3 separate regions of the Homo sapiens genome follow, and regions 2 and 3 are each linked to region 1. Evidence: fine-mapped expression QTL. A gene starts in region 1. Each other region holds a variant in brackets. All regions are shown on one strand. Distances are between the middles of the regions. Region 1 holds the start of MROH2A (maestro heat like repeat family member 2A). Region 2 holds the start of UGT1A4 (UDP glucuronosyltransferase family 1 member A4). Region 3 overlaps MROH2A (maestro heat like repeat family member 2A).

The links. PIP is the estimated chance that this variant, and not a neighbour inherited with it, causes the effect. A credible set is the group of variants that fine-mapping cannot tell apart.
Region 2: its variant is the best candidate, but not a certain one, in a credible set for the expression of MROH2A in lung (TOPMed, PIP 0.52).
Region 3: its variant is the best candidate, but not a certain one, in a credible set for the expression of MROH2A in testis (GTEx, PIP 0.70).

The regions. Positions count from the first base shown.
Region 1 is chr2:233,775,273-233,783,012 of GRCh38, forward strand. MROH2A (maestro heat like repeat family member 2A) reads left to right here and starts at 3,058. Exons shown (of 42, transcript NM_001394639.1): 1 at 3,058-3,209; 2 at 4,073-4,180; 3 at 4,399-4,580. The coding sequence starts at 4,087.
Region 2 is chr2:233,715,535-233,723,274 of GRCh38, forward strand. All of the region lies in intron 1 of UGT1A8 (UDP glucuronosyltransferase family 1 member A8), which reads left to right. The region is part of intron 1 of UGT1A10 (UDP glucuronosyltransferase family 1 member A10); the gene reads left to right. The region is part of intron 1 of UGT1A9 (UDP glucuronosyltransferase family 1 member A9); the gene reads left to right. All of the region lies in intron 1 of UGT1A7 (UDP glucuronosyltransferase family 1 member A7), which reads left to right. It also overlaps UGT1A6, UGT1A5, UGT1A4, UGT1A and the pseudogene RPL17P11. The variant C/A (reference allele first, on the strand shown) is at 3,356.
Region 3 is chr2:233,819,568-233,827,307 of GRCh38, forward strand. MROH2A (maestro heat like repeat family member 2A) reads left to right here. Exons shown (of 42, transcript NM_001394639.1): 31 at 335-489; 32 at 2,557-2,716; 33 at 2,796-2,989; 34 at 3,314-3,451; 35 at 3,989-4,097. Among named protein-coding and RNA genes, the nearest start is that of HJURP, 31 kb to the right of the region's middle. RefSeq lists an enhancer at 3,264-3,764. The variant A/G (reference allele first, on the strand shown) is at 4,104.

The DNA.
Region 1 (7,740 bases):
CGTGTCTGCAGCACTGAGGCACTCTTGTTTACAAGTGAGAGAACCCAACTCGGGATACCTTAAGCATAAACAGTATTTTTGTAAGGAGACAGGCTTCTGACGACGCGAGGCTCATAGCCAGGCCTGCGCTGGGTGGAGCCTCCCCTTCTCACTCCTGTCCCTGTTGGGTCAGAGTGCCAGCTTTCCTCTTCCCTCTCCTCCGGGTCTTTTCGGCCCCTCAGTCCCCATATTCCTCTGCCCTAGCTCCCAAGATCCCACAAGAGACAGACTGGATTCTCTCTGGCCTGGAGTGCCACCTTCCTGAAAGTCAGAATCTGATTGGTCCAGCTGGATCAGGTGTCCTCTCCCTGTCCAATCATCAATGCCGAGAGGGATTACGGAGAGAAAAACATGGCTCCCACCATCCCATTGCTGTGGCTGCTTGGGCCACGGGAGAGGGAACCTTGTGAGCCGGGCAGAATCCACCCTGTAGAGACTGCCTCTGGGTGAGTCATATGGTTTGGCTGTGTCCCCACCCAAATCTCATCTTGAATTGTAATTCCCATTACCCCCATGTGTCATTAGAGGGACCTGGTGGGAAGTGATTTGAATTATGGGGGCAGTTATCTCCATGCTATTTGTGTGATAGTGAGTTCTCACAAGATCTGATGGTTTTATAGGGGGCTTTTCCCCCTCTTGCTCATACTTCCTCTTGCCTGCCACCATGTAAGATGTGCCCTTGCTCCTCCTTCACCTTCTGCCATGATTGTGAGGCCTCCCCAGCCATGTGGAACTGTGAGTCCATGAAACCTCTTTTTCTTTATAAATTACCCAGTCCTGGGTATTTCTTCATAGCAGTATGAAAATGGACTAATACAGTCAGCTTCTGCACAATATTTCCATTTTCCCACATTATGTCTTGGGCCTTTTGTGTATTTAAGCTCACAGGATGCTACGAATAAAGCGTTTTCTTATTTCCTGGGTAGTTCCCATAGAAGTAGTGGTGCAACGTGCCATAGAGTGACAGCACCTAAGAGAAGCTGATTTTGTGAGTGGATTGTGAGTTCAATATTGTTGTCATAATCAGAAAAAAATGTATTTACTTTTTTTTTTTTTTTTTTTGAGACGGAGTCTCACTCTGTTGCCCAGGCTGGAGTGCAGTGGTGTGATCTTGGCTCACTGCAACCTCCGCCTCCTGGGTTCAAGTGATTCTTCCTACCTCACCCTCCTGAGTAGCTGGGATTACAGGCACATGCCACCCCACCACACCCGGCTAATTTTTGTATTTTTTAGTAGAGACAGCGTTTCCCCATGAAAAAAAGTATTTTCAATTTGGAAAGCCAAGCAGAGCCCCCTTCTTCCTCCTTGGTCTCACTGTCTTCATGTCCTCTGTAGATAACATGCTCAGGGGCCTCTTACTTTTGGCCATGGCTTACACACTCGACCTGTGTGTAATTTAAAAATGACCCCTTTCTCCACTCCTCCTGATTGCCATATCCTTCACAATGTGACTTTGCAACTCTTCTCATGAAAAGGAGGAATCTATTTCTCCAGCCTGTGGGTCCTGGCTGGCCTGTGACCTGCCCTGGCTGACAGAGTGTGGCAGGTGATGAGCACTGGTTTCAAGTCTAGGCCTCAAGAAGCCTTCATATTCCCGCTCACTGTCTCAGAACCCTGTCCAGCTGCTATGAGAACAGCCTGGGTGAGCCCTGCTGCACAATGTCCCCATCACCCTAGTCATTTCAGCCAATAGCGAGCCAATGGCCAGCCCTCTAGCTGTCTGAGATACATGGGTGAGACTCTAGTTGTGCTTGGCTGGACAGAGCACAGATCCACAGACCCACGCAGGTGACTCATACACTTGTGAACTATAATAATCGGTTGTTTTCAGTCATTAAGTTTTGAGGTGGTTTGTTACACAGCAATTGCTGACACATTCACTTCTGGCTCTAAATGTATCACTTTTCATGTGTTGAGTCTGAAGACCTTCAGAGGACAGAGATGTGTTCCACCTACCCTATATCCACTGCAGCATGGAAAGCCATGCTTAGCTGCACACAGTAGGCGTGCAGTCTGGGCCTGTGGAATGGACTTGGCAACCACATCACCTCAGTGATCTTTCAAACGGAAAAGAAGGCTCAGTGGGGAGTGGGAGGAGGTAGTGCAGAGGGGCAGTCCTGTGAAAGAAGGGGCATGGGATAGCTGCTTGTGTCTATTTCATGTTGATCAATGTATCTCCAAGTGCAGAACAAGGAATAACGCAGGAATTTTATGAGGAAGAAATGTTGGGCATGATAAGAAAGCTCATTTTCTAACCATCTGAATTCCATGAAGTAGAAAGAGGCTGGTCCTGAGAGTAATGAGCTCCCTCGTATTGGAGGTGTCCAAGCACAGGCTGAGGAACTCCCATTTGGCTGGATGGGCAAACTTGGAGTGGAAATTCCACTTAAGCAACCTTGGCCCTAGATGTCTCTGAGTTTTGTTCCTGTTGTCTTGCAGTGCATAGAAAGATTTCCCAAAGGCCAATATTTCATTGTTGTACCTATGATCTGGATCATCTCTCCTAGCTATAAATGACAGGGAAATCCTTTGGGCTCCACTTTTGGTTTAGGAAATCAGGGTGCCTCCTCTCCTACCTGTCTTTGATGTTCTTTATCTTGTAAGTATTGTGCTAGTGGAAATCCAATTTCTTATCCTGCAAGTCATCCAGTCCCCGGGAAGGAGGAGTGCTCTCCCCAGGGCCTCTCAGTCTGCCCCTCCTCTCCTCTCCAACTGTCCTGACCACACCTCCCCACCCAGGGCTCACATGACTGTGTTCCCCTGGGACTTGGTTGTAAGCCATCCCCACTTCTACCATCTCCCTTTCCCAAACAGGCCCCTGTACTTCAGCACACACATGTGAATAACAGAAATGTTGAATGACAACATGATGTGGAGTTTTCACCCCAGAGCCCTGTGCACTCTTCAAAGACCTGGGTTGATAGAGACTCAGGGAGGCAGTTGGATCTCAAAGTTCCGAGGGTCTGGGATCTAACGGTGATAGTTCTAGTGAAACCCTCCCACCCTTCCAGGAGACCCATTCCTATAAGAAATATGACTGAAGAGCCCAGCTGTCTCACTTTGATAACCAATTCTTCCATTTGCATTTCCATTGATGTGTATTGGGCCAAGAGCAGAGCTTTTTCTTGTGGTTAATATCTGTTTAATCCAGAAGAAGACCCTAAGGAAAGGTCAGTATTTAGGTCCCAGAGTAGCTCTTTAAAATCCTTTAAAGGAAAAGAGAGTATGGGATAGTAAAGGGCCATGGGATGGATCTTTGAGGATCAAGGAACTTGGGACAGGAGGAGAAAGGATCTGAGAGCCTTTCTTCCACCATCTCGACATCTATGTTGGTGTTTCTCAATTTTTAAGAAGCTGTGGATGTTGAGAGAACCCCTTAAAGGAGTTATGAGAGATACTGATATGAATTTCTCATTAGCCATTAATTATCAGTGTGTAGAAGAGAGGGCGAGAGGGCTCTATTAAACTAAGGATATTATCTATTGCTGTGTAACAAATTATCATAAACTCAGTGGCTTAAAAGAACATCCATTGATTATCTCACGGTTCCACTGGCCAGGAGTCTAGGCATGGCTTTCCTTGGTCCTTTGTTTAGGGTCTCAGAGACTGCAGTCCTTTCTGGAGTTCAGCTTCCTCTTCCAAGCTCATGTGCTTATTGGAGAATTCAGTTTCTTATGGTTGTAGGACTGAGGCCCTCAGTTCCTTGCTACGTGGCCCTCACCACAGGCAGTTTGCATCATGGCTGTTTACTTTTCAAGGCCAGTAGAATGTTTCTGTTCAATCTGATAAGAGGGAATCTCATGTGGCATAGTGTGATCATGGGAATGACATCCCACCATCTTTGCCATATGATGTAATCCACTCGAGAGAGGGTCACCCATCACCTTTGCCATATTCTGTTGATTAGAAGGAAGTCACAGGTTCCACCCACACACCCTCAAGGGGATGGCTTTATGGAAGGGTGTGGGTCGTTGGGGTCATCTTAAGGTGTGTGTCACACCCCGTATTTTACAAATTCTGTTGATCTCAAAAGAGCTTGAGGAAGAGATGACTGAAGCCATTACAGAAGCAGCAGTAGCCTCAAGTGAGGAGGTGTCAGAGGAAAGAGACGACCTGGGGCCTCTTGAATTACATGACAGTGGTAAGAATGTCATCCACATTTCTGCTTTCCTGCCCCATCTCAGACACTAACTCTTTGACTGCAGCCCCAGCCTAGGTCTCCCTTTCTCCATCTGCACAGTGGACATCATACCACACATGAAGCTGGAGCTGCGCAGGTGGAGGCAAGGCCAGGGACACAAGGGCACCTCCTGTCATGGTCATTTCCACACTGCACCTGGGTGGCGTTTGTTTTCATAGGTACCTTTCAACAAGTCGTGAACCTTCTGGACATCATTGACAGCGAGTCAGCAAAGACGGACACAACAGGGGCAGGCCTTGACATGCGGAAGACCCTGGCCTCGGTGATAATCATGGAGAAGGCCACCACTGAGCCTTCTGTAGTGATAAACACTCTCATCCGCTGCCTGCAGGTGCCAGAGGTAGGGCCATCTTACCCACTGGGCTCAGCCACCTTTAGCTCTGTGTGCATCCATCCACCACCCAGCACATAGTTACTGACTATCAGAGATGTGATGTGTGGTACTGGGATACAGAGATGGGCAAGACTGTGAGGTGCTTACTCCCTGAGGACCAATTGGGACCTGAGATGTTCATAATTTTTAAAAGTTCCCTTGTCTTCTGACACAGTGGGTTTGGGAGCCATTGTCCTACAGCACATGAGCTGAGTTGCAAAGATGTTGAGCCAGTGGGCATGGGAGAGTAAAGATACACCAGACACAGTGTGCAGGGATGTTTGGCTAGTGGGGAGATGCCTAGCTGGGTTAAGGGGCTGGGGTAGAGGATGTTGGAGGGAGTGATACAAAGTGCAACCAGGGGACCTGGTGGGCTTGTACAGACAAGGTTTGCATCACGTGGTACCAGACAAGGTTTTGGACTAGACAAGGGTTTGGAACAGAGCTGATCCAAACCTTGCTGGGCACCACCCCCAGAGTTTCTGATTCAGTAAGTCTGGGGTGGAGCCTGAGAATCAGCATTTCTAACAAGTTCCCAGGTGATGCCAAGGCTGATCTGGAGAGCCTACTTTGAGAACTGTTGGATTTTAGACTACCCTTTTGTCTTGGAGTGGGTAGCAAAGGGGTGCTATGAGCAGAGGAGCTTATTTATAAAAAGTTTTATTATTTTTGTTGGATTTGGATTTGCATTTGCGTTTTCCCCCTTTTATTTTTAGTTGACACATAACAATTGTACATATTTATAGAATACAAAGTGATATTTCAAAACATATATACAATGTGTAATGACCGAATCAGGGTAATTAGTATATCCAACACTGCAAACATTTATCATTTCTTTGTGTTGCAAGCATTCAAAACTGTTTCTTCTAGTTTTTTGAAAATATACAATCAATCATTGTTGACTATATTCACAACCTACAGTGCTATAGAACACAAGAGCTTATTCCTTCTCTCCAGCTGTAATTTTGTATCTTTTAATCAACTTCTCCCTATCCTCCCCTGCCCTTACCTTTCCCATACCCTAATACCGAAATTCTACTCTTGACTTCTATGAGCTCACCATTTTTATAGCTCCCATATATGAGTGAGAACATGTGGTATTTATCTATCTGTGCCTGACTCATTTCACTTGACATAATGTCCTCCAGTTTTATTCATGTTACGGTAAATGACAGGGTTTCTTTTTTTTATGGTTGAATAATATTCCGTTGTCTGTGTATACCACATTTTCTTTATCCCTTCATACATTGATGGGTACTTACGTTGATTCCATATCTTGGCTATTGTGAATAGTACTGCAATAAACATGAAAATGCAGCTATCTCTTAGATATATTGACTTCCTTTCTTTTGGATACACACCCAGTAGTAGAATTGCTGGATCATACGGTAAATCTAGTTTTACTTTTTTTGAGAAACCTCCATAGAGTTTTCCATAATGGCTGTACTAATTTATAGTCTTACCAACAATGTGTGAGGTTTCCCCTTTCTCCACATCCTTGCTAGCATCTGTTATTTTCTATATTTTGGATAAAAGTCTTTTTAACTGGAGTGAGATAATATCTCATTGTGGTTTTGATTTGCATTTCTCTGATGATTAGTGAGGTTGAGCATTTTTTTATATCCCTGTTGGCCACTTGTATGCCTTCTTTTGAGAAATGTCTGTTCAGATCTTTTGCCCATTTTTAAATTTGATTTTTTTGCTATTGAGTTGTTTGAGCTCCTTGTGTATTCTGGTTATTAATCCCTTGTAGGATGGAGAGATATTCTCCTATTCTGTGGGTTGTCTCTTCGCTTTGTTCACTGTTTCCTTTGCTGTGCATAAGTTTTTTGCTTGACATAATCCCATTTGTCTATTTTTGCTTTTGTTGCCTGTGCTTTTGAGGTCTCACACAAAAAATCTTTGCACAAACCAATTTCCTGGAGCATTTCCCCAATGATTATTTTCTAGTAGTTTCATAGTTTCAGGTCTTGGATTTAAGTCTTTAATCCATTTTGATTTGATTTTTGCATATGGTGAGAGATAGGGGTTTAGTTTCATTCTTCTGCATATGGTTATCCAGTTTTCCCAGCACCATTTATTGAAGAGACTGTCCTTTCACCATTATATGTGCCTAGCACCTTTGTCAAAAATGAGTTGACTGTAAATGCATGGATTGACATCTGGGCTCTCTATTCTGTTCCATTGGTCTATGTGCATGTTTTTATGCCAGTACCATGCTATTTTGGTTACTATGGCTTTAAAGTATATTTTGAAATCAGGTAGTATGATGCCTCCAGCTTTACTCTTTTTGCTCAGGATTGGTTTGTCTGTTTGGAGTCTTATGGTTCCATGTAAAAATTGTCTGTAAAGAATGTCATTGGTATTTTGATAGAGATTTCAATGAATCTCTAAATTGCTTCTGGTAGTATTTTGATAATATTAATTTTTCTATCAGTGAGCATGAAATAGCTTTCCATTTTTTGGTGTCTTCTTCAATTCTTTTCATCAGTGTTTTATAGTTTCCCTTGCATAGATCTTTCACTTCTTTGGTTAAATTTATTCCTAGGTATTTTATATTTTTGTGGCTATTGTAAATGAAATGGATTTCTTGGTTTCTTTTTCAAAATGGGTGAAGTGTTCTGTTGTTTGCCATTTGGCATATACTAATGTTACTGATTTTTGTATGTTAATTTTGTAATCTGCAACTTAACTAAATTTATTTATCAGTTCTAACAGTTTTTGGATGGAGTCTTTGTATTTTTCTAGTATGAGATCGTGTCATCTGTGAACAAGGATAATTTGACTTCTTCCTTTCTATTTTGTATGCCCTTTGTTTCTTTCTCTTGCCTAACTGCTCTGGCCAGGACTTCCAGTATTATGTTGAAGAGCAGTGGTAAAAGTGGGCATTTTTATCTTGTTCCAGATTTTAGGAACAAGGCTTTCGATTTCTTCCATCTGGTACAATGTTAGCTGTGGGTTTGTCATATATGGCTTTTATTATCGTGAGGTATGCTCTTTCTATGCCCAGCTTGTTGAGTTTTTAAAAAATCATAAAGGGCTGCTGAATTTATCAAATACTTTTTTTAGCATATATTGAAATGATCATATGATTGTTGTTCTTGGCTCTGTTAATGTGATGTAT
Region 2 (7,740 bases), 60 kb before region 1:
ACCGAGGGAGGAGGATTGCTTGAGCCCAGGAGTCTGAGAGCAGCCTGGGCAACATGCTGAGACTCCATCTCTACAAAAAATTAAAAAATTATCCAGGTGTGATGGTGCACACCTGTGGTCCCAGCTACTCGGGAGGCTGAGGCAGGAGGATCACTTGATCCCAGGAGGTGGAGGCTGCAGTGTGCCATGTTCACGCCACCTCACTCCAGCCTGAGTGACAGAGCGAGGACCCATCTCAAAAAAATAAAAATTTATTTGGAATGTGAAAATCTTGTTTTAAAGTTAGAAAACATTTTTTTAAAACTCCAATATGAAAAGCTGGGTGCAGTAGCTTGTGCCTGTGGCCCCAGCTACTTGGGAGGCTCAGGTGGGAGGATCATTGAGCTCAGGAGTTTCAGCTCTTGTGGTTTGTTGACTGACTGACTGATTGACTGATTGATTGATTTAAAACACAACAAAACCCAAAATGACTTTAATCTGATAGTTTCTTTTGATGTCAGCATTCTGATTCTGTCCATTCTTAGTTGTATTCTTTCCACTGAGTGTAAGCTCATTCCTTTAACAGAAATTTAGTTTTTCCATCTTAGTTTTGGAATTCCATGGCCCTTTTCCATTTCCATGGAGATGCAGTGCAGCATCTTCAAGTCTCTAATTCTTACATCTGTCTCTTTCACTTGCAAGAGCCCTTGTGATTACATTGTCCTGCCCGGACATCCAGCATAATCTCCCCATGTCAAAACCCTTAATATAATCACATCTATAAAGTCTCTTCCACCTGTAATGGAATATATTCCCAGGTTTGCGCAACTACAATGTAGATACTTTGTGGGGCTGTGATTCTGCCTACCACAGACACTAAGCTTAAAGTGAAACCCACATCTTATTCAAAACTTGGAGGTTTTCCTTCATTTGGCCATTTAAATTTAATTTTTGTTTCTGTCCTCCGTAGTCTTCTATTCTCCAGGCTTCAGAGCTCTCAGCTTACCATTCAATTATCTCCTTTCTCTCCTTATATTCCTTTTTTCATTTTTTAAAAACAATACTTTCAAAGAGCAAAAATTTTAGAATTTGATGAGGTTTATTCTAGTGAAGTTTTTATCGTTTGTACTTTTTGTACCCTAAGGAAGCTTTGTTTACCCCAAGATATAGTTTCTACATTCTCTTAAAAACACTAAAGAGTTCCAGTTTATATGTTTAGCTCTGTGAGATTGGGAGAGGGGAGCTAGATCACTCAGGTCAGGCTTTCGGGATGCCTTTTTCTGTCTCTGGACGTTGCTGGGGTGACCTCACTGACACCCATGGCTTCAGCTACCACATATGCTGATGGCTCCAAGTCTATCTGTGCAGCCCAGACCCCTCCTCATCTCCAGACCCTGGAAGCTGATGCCTTGGGCAGCTCCTCCTATTTCCCAGGCACCAGGAATGTGAGCTTCTCCCTCCCCACAGTCCTGCTGTCCTCAGGGCCCCTATGTCTCTGAAGGCACCACCATCTTCCAAGATACATGGGCCTCCGCAGGGTCTAGGAGTGCCAGACACGTAACCAGAAATCAGATGACATCACTATCTAAATAAAACACCACTACATGGAAATAGAACACCACTACATGGAAATAGAACATGGGAGCCCCTTGAATGTGGCAAGAGCACCCTCCCAGGCATGTTCCACCCTCACCCCGGGCTCATCAGGAGGGTTCTTAAGATGCAGACAGTTTTAAGGGGGTTGGAGGAATAGTTGAGAAGCTGAGATGTTGCACCCACAGCTGAGAATCCCTTTCTAGCACTCTGTGTCCTCACAAATCCCCAGAAATCGTCCTCCCCTGGGGAGTTCTCAAGCCCTTACAGACCTGCCCTCTCTGTGCCATCCTGCATATGCCTCCCTTGAGCTGGGTGTCCCTCTGATGGACGCATCCATTCACTGCCTGTCCCATGGGTTGTGTCCAAAGGTGGAATCTGTTATCAATGTGGATTTCTAATGGGAGTAACTTCCTCCATAAGGGAAGCCTCAGCCTCACCAGCAATGGCAGACATGGCCAGGCATGTAGACACAGAGGTAGTGAGATGGAAAGTGGGCACAGCCCAGAGAGCCTGCCCACCTCATCCTGGGGCGACCAGGACAAGGAAGCATCAGCAATCTTGCGAGCACATGTAGGAGTGACTTTCTGGAGCAGGACGAGCCTCATGGGCATGAGACCATTGTGAGTGCTCAGGGTCTCCCCCTAGAAAGGCACACATTTAATTCTCCATTTTGAAATTTGAAGTAGTGCCCCCACAAATTATGCAGCCCGTTCTGTTCTGGAGGAACCATTCTTATCAGAACTTGGTGCTGGATTGACTTGGAGAAAAGCCTGGCCATAATCTTCAGGATGAAATAAAGGCCTGGATGAATGGATACTTCAGTCTCTATGCAGACTTGCAGAAGACTGGAGCCTTTGGCATTCAGAAGAGGAATTCAGACTGTGCAAGATCTGAGGCCAGGCTCCAGCTCCCCAGGTCCTTTGGTGAGCAGGAGCTCCCTGAACCCACCGTGGGTCCTTGCTAGGGTTGTCTTGCCCATGTGTGCTTTAGACAGCAGCACCTCTTATTCCATGGTGTAGATGGAGAATCCTCAATAAAGCCTTCCCAAGAATATGATCATCACATCTTGAGCTCAGCCTCCCCGGAGCTTTTTTTTATATTGACAGCCACTTCAGAGAGAGTCCTCTTTGAGCTTTACAAGAAATATCCTGGTGTGAAAAAAGACCAAAACCAGATAGCCAGCCTGAACACTCTCTGTTTAGAGAAAGCTGGCTTAGCAATGTTGTATGTCTTTTGGATGTGCTGTGTTATTCACATATGAGAAGAAAGAGTTTCAAGGGTTAGCAAATAGCGTCACATTCAGCAGAGAACATGTGGTTGGGGACTAGGGCAATGGTGACTCCTCAGACCTCAGCTGCAGCCTGATAAATATGGTTAACAGAGTAGAAGGCAGTGACATGAAATGGGTGTCCACAGCCTTGTGTTGGGAATTGAATGAGAAAGAAGAGCTTGAACTTGGATGTTCCCCAGAGGCAGCACAGGGTCAGATGAGCTTTTCAAGATAGGCGTGATTGGTCTTTCCCAGGGTTGGGCCCATAACGAAAGGCAGTTATAGATTAATGGGTAATAAGTAACTGGAGGAGGGCACTTTGTCTTCCAATTACATGCTGATTTGCTAGGTGGCTCAATGACAAGGTAATTAAGGCGAAGGAAACAAATGTAGCAGGCACAGCGTGGGGTGGACAGTCAGCTGTCGGTGGCTTCTGCTGAGATGGCCAGAGGACTCCAGGTTCCCCTGCCGCGGCTGGCCACAGGACTGCTGCTCCTCCTCAGTGTCCAG[C/A]CCTGGGCTGAGAGTGGAAAGGTGTTGGTGGTGCCCACTGATGGCAGCCCCTGGCTCAGCATGCGGGAGGCCTTGCGGGAGCTCCATGCCAGAGGCCACCAGGCGGTGGTCCTCACCCCAGAGGTGAATATGCACATCAAAGAAGAGAAATTTTTCACCCTGACAGCCTATGCTGTTCCATGGACCCAGAAGGAATTTGATCGCGTTACGCTGGGCTACACTCAAGGGTTCTTTGAAACAGAACATCTTCTGAAGAGATATTCTAGAAGTATGGCAATTATGAACAATGTATCTTTGGCCCTTCATAGGTGTTGTGTGGAGCTACTGCATAATGAGGCCCTGATCAGGCACCTGAATGCTACTTCCTTTGATGTGGTTTTAACAGACCCCGTTAACCTCTGTGGGGCGGTGCTGGCTAAGTACCTGTCGATTCCTGCTGTGTTTTTTTGGAGGTACATTCCATGTGACTTAGACTTTAAGGGCACACAGTGTCCAAATCCTTCCTCCTATATTCCTAAGTTACTAACGACCAATTCAGACCACATGACATTCCTGCAAAGGGTCAAGAACATGCTCTACCCTCTGGCCCTGTCCTACATTTGCCATACTTTTTCTGCCCCTTATGCAAGTCTTGCCTCTGAGCTTTTTCAGAGAGAGGTGTCAGTGGTGGATCTTGTCAGCTATGCATCCGTGTGGCTGTTCCGAGGGGACTTTGTGATGGACTACCCCAGGCCGATCATGCCCAACATGGTCTTCATTGGGGGCATCAACTGTGCCAACGGGAAGCCACTATCTCAGGTCTGTATTGGTGCCTTCATCCAATCAATGTTCCAGGCAAAACACTTTTTAAAAAATGTATTTACTTACAAGTGCTTCCATATCTACTTATCTTTCCAAAGATTTTATTTTGGCTTCTTTATAACAGATAAACTGTTGAGGGGCCTAGTGTATTTCAAGTTTTCAGTGGTCACTGAGAGGAAGAAGAGGCACGGATGAGGGTCTGTCAGAGGATGGACAAGGACTGCTGTGACTCACGGACAGTGTTTGTAAAGGCACCATCTTCATGGTTGTGCATGTCCTTCAGCTCGGCAGGATCAGGGACACTACATTCAGAACTGATCCATCCTGGGGTTTTTGCTTGCCTGATTTTCAGCTGAACGGTGATGCAACAGTAAATTAGAATTGTGGACATGATAATTTTTAGTGGTCCCATCTTGCGAAAGATACAGAGGTGACCACAGGAGACCTAGGCACTCACAGGAAGTAGAAGTGTCAAAGAGGTTGACTCAGTTGAGTGGAAGTGGGGCTGTGAAGGTGGGATGGATGCATGTGATCAGAGAATGAAACATGGAGTTCAGTTTCCAGAGAGGGATCTGTCCTGAGAAAAGTTTTTCTGACCAGGAGTTGGGGGTCTGGTGTATGATGTGGGGACATCGTAGAGTTTGGAAGGTATGGTGATGGTTGCATGTCAAAAGGGTCTTCTACTTGGAATGCTGAAATTATCAAGAGTGGGTGGAAGGGACTAGGGAGGAGATAAGACCGTGAATCTATAAGCCCAGTGAAGCTGGGACCAGTGATGAATGGACATGTGTCCAAGAAGGGAAGTGTTTCTCAGGTGAAGCTGATCATATCACCAAACTCACCCTATCCCACTCCAAGTTTCTATAGTGGGATCTATTCTTTTTCCAAAAATTTCAGAGGTGACTTTCATTAATACAGAATATTTGGGTTTCATTGAAATAGTACTCTGGGATGTGAAAAACCAAATTCACACACCAATGAATTTGGTTTCTAAATCCATTAAGGGAGCCATCCTTTTTTTTTTTTTTTTCTTGAGACTGAGCCTCGTTCTGTCGCCCAGGCTGGAGGGCAGTGGCCGGATCTCCGCTCACTGCAACCTTCACCTCCCGGGTTTAAGAAATTCTCCCACCTCAGTCTCCTGAGTAACTGGGACTGCAGGCATGTGCCACTGCTCCTGGCAATTTTTTTTTTTTTTTTTTTAGTAGAGATGAGGTTTCGCAATGTTAGCCAGGCTGGTCTTGAACTCCTGACCTCATGTGATCTGCCCGCCTCGGCCTCCCAAAGTGCTGGGATTACAGGCAAGAGCCACCAAGCCCAGTGAGGGAGCCATCTTTCTTGTGAGAGAATTGAGCCCTTTTTTGTCATATTCACTGAATTTATATGAACTTCCATGAGTTTAGGTCCTTTGTATTCTTATTTCTGTACTTCTTTTTATTAGTGTAGGTATTATTGCAAAGGACACTAAACTTTATTTTTGTTTTTGATCAAACCACAAGATATTTGTTCTACTGGTTTTCTTTTCCCCTTATGCAATGTAGTTACTGAATTGTAAAAAATATATATGTTCTTTAGCTTTGTAAAAATGTGGAAAATTAGGAAGGCATTTGAATAGTGATTGTGGCTCTTTTCTTGTGGTTTTTCACTATGAATATATTCTTTAGACTGAACTGCACTGGCTCAAATCTTCACTCTCATTTTTCTAGCTATGTGACCTAGGACAGGTACCCTAAGCATTGTGGTTTTAATGTTGTTATAGTGAGCACCCAATAAATATTATCTGTTATCATTCTTATTATTTTAGTTTAATTGCATTTATTTTATGCTGAATTTCTTCCAGAGCCATAGGTAAATTTTTTCTTCAGTTTCTTCTGGGATATCTTTTTCTTCTGTGCAACCTCATCCTCAGGTTTAGGAACAATTTGTTCCTTATCAGTAAAGATCATCTTGAATGTGGCAGTGGGGGGTCATGTAAGGGTTAATCCAATAATGAGCTCTGCAAGACGCATGGCTCATCTTGGATGCTTTGTTTACTTGGATAAGCTTAATGATGAGAGAATCTACATCTAAATTGTTATATTTAGCATTATTCTCTGCATTTTAAAGCACATGCAGCAAAAATCCAGCACCCTATTTGGGCCACCGACCTTGTGTCCAGCCCCACTGCTCGGCCCTGGGCACACTTGCCAGCCCCTCCATTGCAATATCGAAATGGTGCACACTGCTTCCATAAAGTGACATCCTTCAGACACTTGGTGGCTCTTTGTATATGCATACATTGATGGCCTGGGTAGTTTCACGAATGTCCTTTAAGTGAACAGGAAAACTGAAACCTCTTGAATTGCATGATTTTGTGGTGTTTCTGGGTCAAGTGAATAAAGAAGAATTTTCACAGATCACCTTAGGCCTCTTAGAGGAAGAGCTATCATCATCATTAGTAGAGTTTAAGACTCCTGCAGGACAAGATGTGTCACCTGGAGACCTTTGCCATGTTCGTGCCAATTTACTGAGTGCATGAAAGATCATTTACACCAAAATCTTTATCATGTATTATCTGTGACAGACACGCCATTATCATTTTTATTACATTGATTTCCTTTGTTATTTTGTCACCCTTACTTACTTGGTTTGGTTGACCCTTAGATTTGAAATTTTTCTACAAATATACAAGACTAAAGTTGAAATCTTACGTTTCTTCTCCCTCTCTTTCTCCTTGATTTAAAGTTTATGGATAGGTTGAATTATTTGATTGGTCTTCTCAAAGAAATAACTGTGGAATTTGTATATTCTTTTCACTGTTTCATTTTCCGTTTCGTTAATTGCAGCTTATTTTTGCCTTAATGATTTCATCCTAGTTTCTTTTGGTTGATTTGTAGCTGCTTTTGCAACTTCGTTAGAGGACTATTACACTTCTTTACATTTGATTTTTCTTAATGAAGCATTGAGGGCTCGAGTAAAAGATTTCTTTTACTTAGGTTTTGGTAAAAATTGCTGTTCTTTTCATTGCTTTTAGATAATTTAAATATCAGTTTTTAAATTTCTCCTTTGATGCAGTGACTGTCTATAAGGCTGTTACCTAATTCTGATATTGTTAATAATTTTGTAGTCATCTCCCTCTTATTTTTTCAAGTTATTTTGTATTATAATAAGAATGTTTCTTTTTTTTTTTTTTGAAGGAAAAAATAAATTTATTGCTCATTAAGTGGAAGTGGATCATCATAAAGGTCTTCATCCTCATTGTCTCCATGCTGAGTGGGCTGAGGAGGAGGAGGAAGGGGAGGGATTGGTCCTGCTGTCTCAGCGTGGCAGAGGCAGAAGAGGATGAGAAGGTGGAAGGGCCAGCGGGAGAGGCAGGCACACTCGGTGTAACTTTATGGAAATATATCATCATTTTTGTTTGACTTTTTTCCTTTCTCATTTCTCTGAAAATGTTTCTGTACAGTACCAATTCTTCTTCCACCATTTGCTTTAGTTTCAGTGCCCAAACCATAGAAGGGTCCATGTGGTAAAAAAAGTCAAAACTGACTTTTTTTTTTTTTTTTGAGTTGGAGTCCTGCTGTCACCCAGGCTGGAGTGCAATGGCACGA
Region 3 (7,740 bases), 44 kb after region 1:
GAATGCCTCCCCCAACCCCTGGCTGCTAAAGAGGAGGAGGAAACAGAGTTCTAGAGCTAGAAAGAAGCGTGTTGAAGGTAGCCTCGTTAGTTAAGTGCACGCTGACCTGGAGATCAAGGTTCTCCTCCCCAGAGCACACCACCTCCTGCACTGAAAGCCTGGGAAAATGAGTTTGAGGCAGAGACCAGAGGATGCACTAGAGAGGGTGCTGGGCGCTTAACCTCCCCATTGTCCAACTGGGCCAGAGCCCTTAGAGCAGGGGCATGTCATGGGGTTAGTGCAGGAGGCCATAGGGGCCTGGGCTGCCCCCCGGTGATGCCCCATCCCTACCTAGGTGGCCGAGATCCTGAGTGCCATCCTGGTGCACCTGCCGGTGGTGGACCACCCAGAGGTGCGGCGCCTTCTCATTGACGGCATCCTGCTGCTGGCGCACCACCACCAGGAGACCATCCTCACATCGCTCCTGAGGCAGCCACTGCCCATGGAGAGGTGGGTGCCCTGGAGGAGGTGGCCCCGGCCTCCTGTGCCATTTGACCATGCCCAACTCACCACCCCGATGTGTCCCAGAAGCCTGGAGCCTTGGGCAGTACCCTGCCCCACCCTGAAGGAGGTCGAAGCCCTCTTCCTGTACCTCCTGCAGGAGGTGCCAGCCTCCGACGAGCCACTGACAGAGCCCAGGCTTGTAGAACTTCGCCACATGGAGCTGGAATCTGGACCCGTAGCTCCCCACATGCCCGGGACAGTGTCTGTGGAGTTCATTCTCTCCCAGAGTAGCCCTTTCCTTCCCTGTGAACAGAGCTCCAGCAGATGGGCTGCAGGGTGCGGCTCCAAGGCATGAGCAAGCCCTGGATATATTCCAGGCTGTCCCTATTTCTTTCAAAATGTGTCCTAAGAGGGGAAGCGACTTGTCCCAGTCTCCAAGGGGAGAATGGCCCAACCTCCAGCCCCAGAGGTGGCCATGAGTGATGCAGAGCCACCCCATCTTTATTGGTGTTTCTCTGCAGACAGTGCAGAGCTCCTGTGTGTGCTACAGCATGATGGCACAGGCAGCTGGGCATGGTCTCCCCACATGTGGGGAGTCTGTTTGGGGTGGTACCAGAATTCATCTGGGAGGAGCCAGAAAGAGCTAGACAGTCATCCCCAGAGCAGTGGAGCCTGTGCTGGTGCAGGGACGTGAGGAGATGTCAGGCTAAGTAAGAGGCTTGGAACAGAGAAAAGAGTTTTAAAAATAGGCCCCGGCTCCAGAGCCACAAGGGCTGACCTGCCCGAAATGCAGGCATGACTCCCCTGTGGAGCTGCTTCTCATAAGGGCAGCCCTGCCGTGGGTCCAGCTGGGAGGGTGGTGCAGGTGTCATGATTTAATGAGGCTCAGTGGCTCATGAGGCAGTGCTGGGTGGGGGTAAGGGGGATGTGCGGTGCAGCCCTGGGTCAGGCTGGCGTACTTGGTGGCCACGTCACACTGGCTTTCACTTAGTTTGCCAAAATCTGTATTGGTTTGCTATTGCTGAATAACAAATTATCACCCACTTAGAAGCTTCTAACAACATCCATGGATTAGCTCACAATTTCCATGGTTCAGGAGTCAAGGCATGGGTTAGCTGGGCTTTCTGTTCAGGGTCTCACAAGCCTGTGATGAGGGTGTCAGCTGGGCTGCATTCCAGAGCCTGGGGTTGTCTTCCAGGATTGTGTCATTGTTCGTAGTTGCTTCTTGCCATTGTAGGACTGAGGTGCCCCTTCTTGTTTCCTTGCGCCCCATGGCTTCTTTACAGAGGGTGCTGATGAGTGCACTCTGCCCCCTCTCCATTTACTCCTGCCCCCAGGCCCCCAGGCACATCTCCCTTCAGACCCAAACTCACCACCCTGCTCTTGTGCATTGGTTTTGTGGGTTCCAATAGTCAGTTTACACATCTCTTTGTTCAACTTGACCTTGTTAAATTACATTTAGACTTGTTAGACTCACATTAGCCTTTTAGAACCTCCCAGATGCCCCGCTCTCTGTGCCTCTGTACCTATCCTGGGGGACATCCCTTCTCAGCAGGGCCATGGGCTTGGACTTGGAAACCAGGAAGGCCCTTTTCCAACTGTAGTTTGGCAGGTGGCCTGACTGCTGCAAGCCTCACTTCCCTCTTCTGTGGAATAGGGAGACAAAATACCTTCCTCAAAGATGTGTTGGGAGGGTTAGGTGATATAATATCAGAAAGCTACCGACAACCAACCTGATGCAAATTGGGCACTAGGAGGTATTGTGGGACATGTCCGTACAGTCATCAAACAGGTGGGGGTCTCTGTGGTCATCTAGCAGTGGAGGTGGGGCTTCCGTGGGGGCCATGGCTTTCCCAAAGGTACCGTGAGCCCGTGCAGAGAAAGGGGGTTGAGTATAGTGTCAGGGGCCTGGGTTCTAAGCACGCAAATTTTGGCGGCTCCCTCCGCCTCCCTGAGATTCAGTCCCCAGAGTCCAACCCCTACTTAGGGGGCTGCCAAGGGTTTGAAAGGGATTCTTACCTGCCAGGGCACATGCCAGGAAACTCACAGTCCTTGTGCCCTGACTTTGGTTAGCCACCTGGCAGAGGTGTGGCTGGCAGTGTCGGAGAACGTGCCCTTCGCCCGGACCATGCTCCACAGCCTGATGGGCCGGCTGCAGTCACGGCTCAGCCCCAGAATCAGTGCCACCTCCAAGGCTGACATCTGGCGCCTGGCTGCGGTGGACCCCCTGATGGTGAGTTGCAGGCGCAGGCCCCAAGGCTCCTCAGGGGTCTCTGGGTAGGAGCCCGATGCCCTGGACCTTCTCTCTGCAGACCCTGTGCACCATCCACCTTCTCATTCAGAAGCTGGATGAGAATGACAAGCTCCCGGACTTCCTCCCTGACCTCATCTACACCCTCCTGCTGCAGCTTGGAAGCAGCCACCGACCAGAGGCCGCCCCGCCGGTCTTGAAGATGTGGAAGCTGGTCCACACCACTCCTCTGCCGGAGGAGATGAACCTGCAAAGGTGCTCTCGAGGGCGGTGGGTGCAAGGCAGCAGGCCTGGGCTGGCTGTAGCCACGGGCTGCCCCTTAGTTGCCAGTGGACTCCAGTGAGGGGCCCTCTGTCTCCTCCTGGTGGGATCTGATCTTACTCAAAATGCCGTTCTCATGTGTGTCAAGCACGGTGTGGTTTTCAGAGCTTGCAGATCCACTCCCTCCCTGGACCTTTCCCTCAGTCCCTTGGGCTGGGCCCGGCAGGCACTGGGGCCCCACTTCACAGATTGCAGCAGCCTCCCCAGGCCATGCGCTCCCAGCAGGGCAGCGCATCACAAGCTCCCACCTCCCTTCAGGGTCACTATCAAGTCCATGCAGCTCTTGTTCAAGAGAGTCAAGAGCCAGCACCTGGCACATACCCTGGACGAGCAGGCAGTGTGGGACCTCCTGCAGGACGGCGGGACATTCCTGGAGGGTGTGAGCCTGCTGGCCAGGTGGGCCCTGGCTCCCACAGGGTGGCAGGGGGACCTGCAGAGGCACCTCCTTGCTGGATGGAAGGGCTCCTTGTGAGGACATGGTCCAGTCATGGCTGAAGGCCTTCTTTCTGGGGGAACTGCCACGCCAACCTGTGACTCTAGGATGGCAGTGGTGTGCAAGAGAATGAGAACCTTTTATTCGAACCCTTCCTGCTCAGAGCAGATATGAGGGCAGAAAGAGGAGGGGCTCGCCCCCAGGGCCACACAGGGTCTAGAGTAGGCCAGGGATGGGAGTTACTTCTGGGGTCCTAGTCACTCCGGAGCCGCCCTCACTCTAGTCCCCTTTGTAAAAAGGAGATAGACATTGACTGATTCACTGACAACCTCAACCAAGTCCCCAGGAAGAGGAGGGAGAAACCCAGAGATGTTACGACATCTTTCCGGGGTTATCTTGCCACCAGGGTCCAGGCACCGATGTGGCCCTGCCCAGCTCTTGGCAAACGTCAGGCAGGGGTGGGGCCGCCTCCACGACCTGGCACTGTCTCTCCTCTGCAGGCTGTGCATGCAGCACGTGGAGGGCCACAGGCAGAGGCTGGCCGAGCTGGTGCTCAGGGGCATGGACTCAGAAGTCCTGAGCTGCCGCATCAGCAGCACAGCGGTCTGCGTGGAA[A/G]TGAGGCACCGGGTGTGGGCGGGGTGCAAGCGGAGGGGATGGGGTCCCTGGATTCTTCTGGGGATGGCTTGTCTCCAAGGCATGGGAGTCGGGGGGACAGGCGAGCGCCCCTCCTCTGAGTGCTCATTCTCTCATCTGCTCCTTCATTCATTCATCACATGAGTAGTGCAGGGCAGGCCCTGCTGGAAAGACAGGCTGAGCCCTGCAGCATTGCAGTTAACTGATGTGTGACCCAGGCAAGTACAGTGACCCAGGGGACCCAGGGAGGGCACCTGGGTTCTCGCTGGGGCAGGCTTCCTGCAGGAGGACTCAGAGAGGCCGAGGGGCTTTGCTAGGTGGGAAGGCAGGGCCCAGCGACCCTATCTCAGAGTGAGTGTTGGAGCGTCCTGAGGGCAATGATGCCCAATGCACCCTAGGAACCAACCACAGCCCAGGCCAGAGGCCGGCCAGTGTTTTCTGTAAAGGACTGCAGAGTAAATTTTTGGCTTTGTGGCCAACTAAGCTGTAGCAGGAAAACAGCCACAGCCAATAAGTCAACCAGTGGGCATGACGGTGTCAACAAAACCTTATTGATGGACACTGGAATTTAAACTTCATGGAATTTTCATGTGCCATAGAATTTTCTTTTCTATATTTCTTTTCCCCAACACTTAAAAATGGGAAAATGAGTTTTGGCAGTGGGCTGTACAAAAGCTCCTGGAAGTACAAGACCAGTCTGGGAGGTACTCACCAAGCTTTTATAGGTTCTTCAGGCCCCTCCCTGTGTTCAGGCCTCTGTAAATCTTCAAAATGAGGATGGGAAGGAGAAGTGCTCCCTCGTTGTCTCACCCAGGACCTGTCCTTTGATGTGCCTGAGTTTGGAATTTTCAGCGGCTGGAAGCCACACAGGGCCAGGCGCAGGTGCTGGAATCCGAGGGCCTGGTTAAGAGCCTCCGCTCAGTTGCTGATTGGCTGGAGATGAAGTTACTTAGCGTCTCTGAGCTTCAAGCTCTCCATCTGCCCAACTGGGGAAAGCAGTGCCTTCTTTTCAGGGCTTTGGTGAGAGCTAAATGAGATAGACCGTGTATGCATTGCTTGCTTGGGAGGTAAGTGCTCATTAAATGCTAGCTAATTATGGCAGTTTAAAAATTAGGTTCAGCTTTTTTGGTTCCATATGAATTTTAAAATAATTTTTTTCTAATTCTGTGAAGAATGTCAATGGTAGTTTAATGGGAATAGCATTGAATCTATACATTACTTTGGGCAGTATGGTCATTTGCATGATACTGATTCTTCCTATCCATGAGCATGGAATATTTTTCCATTTGTTTGTGTACTCTCTGGTTTCTTTGAGCAGAGGTTTGTAGTTCTCCTTTGAAGAGGCCCCTCACTTCCCTTGTTAACTATATTCCTAGGTATTTTATTCTCTTTGTAGCAATTGTGAATGGGAGTTCATGATTTGGCTCTCTGCTTGCCTGTTGTTAGTGTGTAGGAATGCTTGTGACTTCTGCAGATTGATTTTGTATCCTGAGACTTTGTTGAAGTTGTTTATCAGCTTAAGAAGTTTTTGGGCTGAGACAATGGGGTTTTCTAGATATAGGATCATGTCATCTGCAAACAAAGACATTTTTACTTCCTCCCTTCCTATTTGAATACGCTTTATTTCTTTCTCTTGCCTGATTGCCCTGGCCGGAACTTCCAATACTATGTTGAGTAGGAGTGGTGAGAGAGGGCATCCTTGTCTTGTGCCGATTTTCAAAGGGAATGCTTCCGGCTTTTGCCCATTCAGTATGATATTGGTTGTGGGTTTGTCATAAATGGCTCTTATTATTTTGAGGTACTTCAATACCTAGTTTGTTGGGAGTTTTTAACATGAAGGGATGTTGAATTTTATTGAAGGCCTTTTCTGCACCTATTGAGATAATCATGTGGTTTTGTCTTTAGGTCTGTTTATGTGATGAATTACGTTTATTGATTTACATATGTTGAACTAGCCTTGCATCCTGGGAATGAAGGCTACTTGATCGTGGTGGATGAGCTTTTTGATATGCTGCTGGATTCAGTTTGCCAGTATTTTATTGAGAATTTTTGCATCGATGTTCATCAGGGATATTGGCCTGAAGTTTTCTTTTTTTTGTTGTATCTCTGCCTGGTTTTGGTATCAGGATGATGCTGACCTCATAGAATGAGTTAGGGAGGTGTCCTTCCTTTTCAATGGTTTGGAATAGTTTCAGAAGAAATGGTATAAACACCTCTTTGTGTTTCTTTTTCCTTTTTTTTTTTTTTTTTTTTTTGAGACAGGGTCTTGCTCTGTCGCCAGGCTGGAGTGCAATGGCGTGATCTCAGCTCACTGCAACCTCCACCTCCCGGGTTCAAGCAATTCTCCTGCCTCAGCCTTTCGAGTAGCTGGGACTGTAGGCATGTGCCACCACACCCAGCTAATTTTTGTATTTTTAGTAGAGATAGGGTTTCACCATGTTGGCCAGGATGGTCTCGATCTCTTGACCTTGTGATTTGCCCGCCTCGGCCTCCCAAAGTGCTGGGATTACAGGCGTGAGCCACCACGCCCGACCACCTCTTTGTATTTCTTGTAGAATTCAGCCTGTATAGCCAAGACAATTCTAAGCAAAAAGAACAAAGCTGGAGGCATCACCCTACTGGACTTCAAACTATACTATAAGGCTACAGTAACCAAAACAGCATGGTACTGGTACAAAAACAGATACACAGACCAATGGAACAGAATAGAGAACTCAGAAATAAGATGGCACATCTACAGGCAACTGATCTTGGACAAACCTGACAAAAACAAGCAATGGGGAAAGGATTCCATATTTAAAAAATAGTGCTGGGAGAACTGGCTATCCATTTGCAGAAAATTGAAACTGGACCCCTTTCTCACACATTATGCAAAAATTAACTCAAGATGGATTAAAGACTTAAATGTAAAACCCAAAACTATAAAAACCCTAGAAGAAAATCTAGGCAATACCATTCAGGACATGGGCATGGACAAACATTTCATGATAAAATCACCAACAGCAATTGCAACAAAAGCAAAAATTGACAATTGGGATCTAATTAAACTAAGGAGCTTCTGCACAGCAAAAGAGACTATCATCAGAGTGAACAGGCAACCTACAGAGTTGAAGAAAATCTTTGCAATTTATCCATTCAAAAAAGGTCTAATATCCAGAATCTACAAGGAACTCAAACAAATTTACAAGAAAAAAACAAACAATCCTATTAGAAAGTGGGCAAAGGACATGAACAGACCCTTCTCAAAGAAGACACTCATGCAGCGAATAAACATATGAAAAAAAGCTAAATATCACTGATCATTAGGTAAATGCAAATCAAAACCACAAGGAGATACCATATCATGCCAGTCAGAATGGCCATTATTAAAAAGTCAAGAAACAACAGATGCTGGCAAGGTTGCAGAGAAATAGGAACACTTTTACACTGTTGGTGGGAATGTAAATTAGTTCAACCATTGTGGAAGACGGTGTGGTGATTCCTCAAAGATCTAGAACCAAAAATACCATCTGACCCAGCAATCCCATTACTGGGCATATACCCAAAGGAATATAATCATTCTATTACAAAGATATATGCATGTGTATGTTCATTGTAGCACTATTCACAATAACAAAGA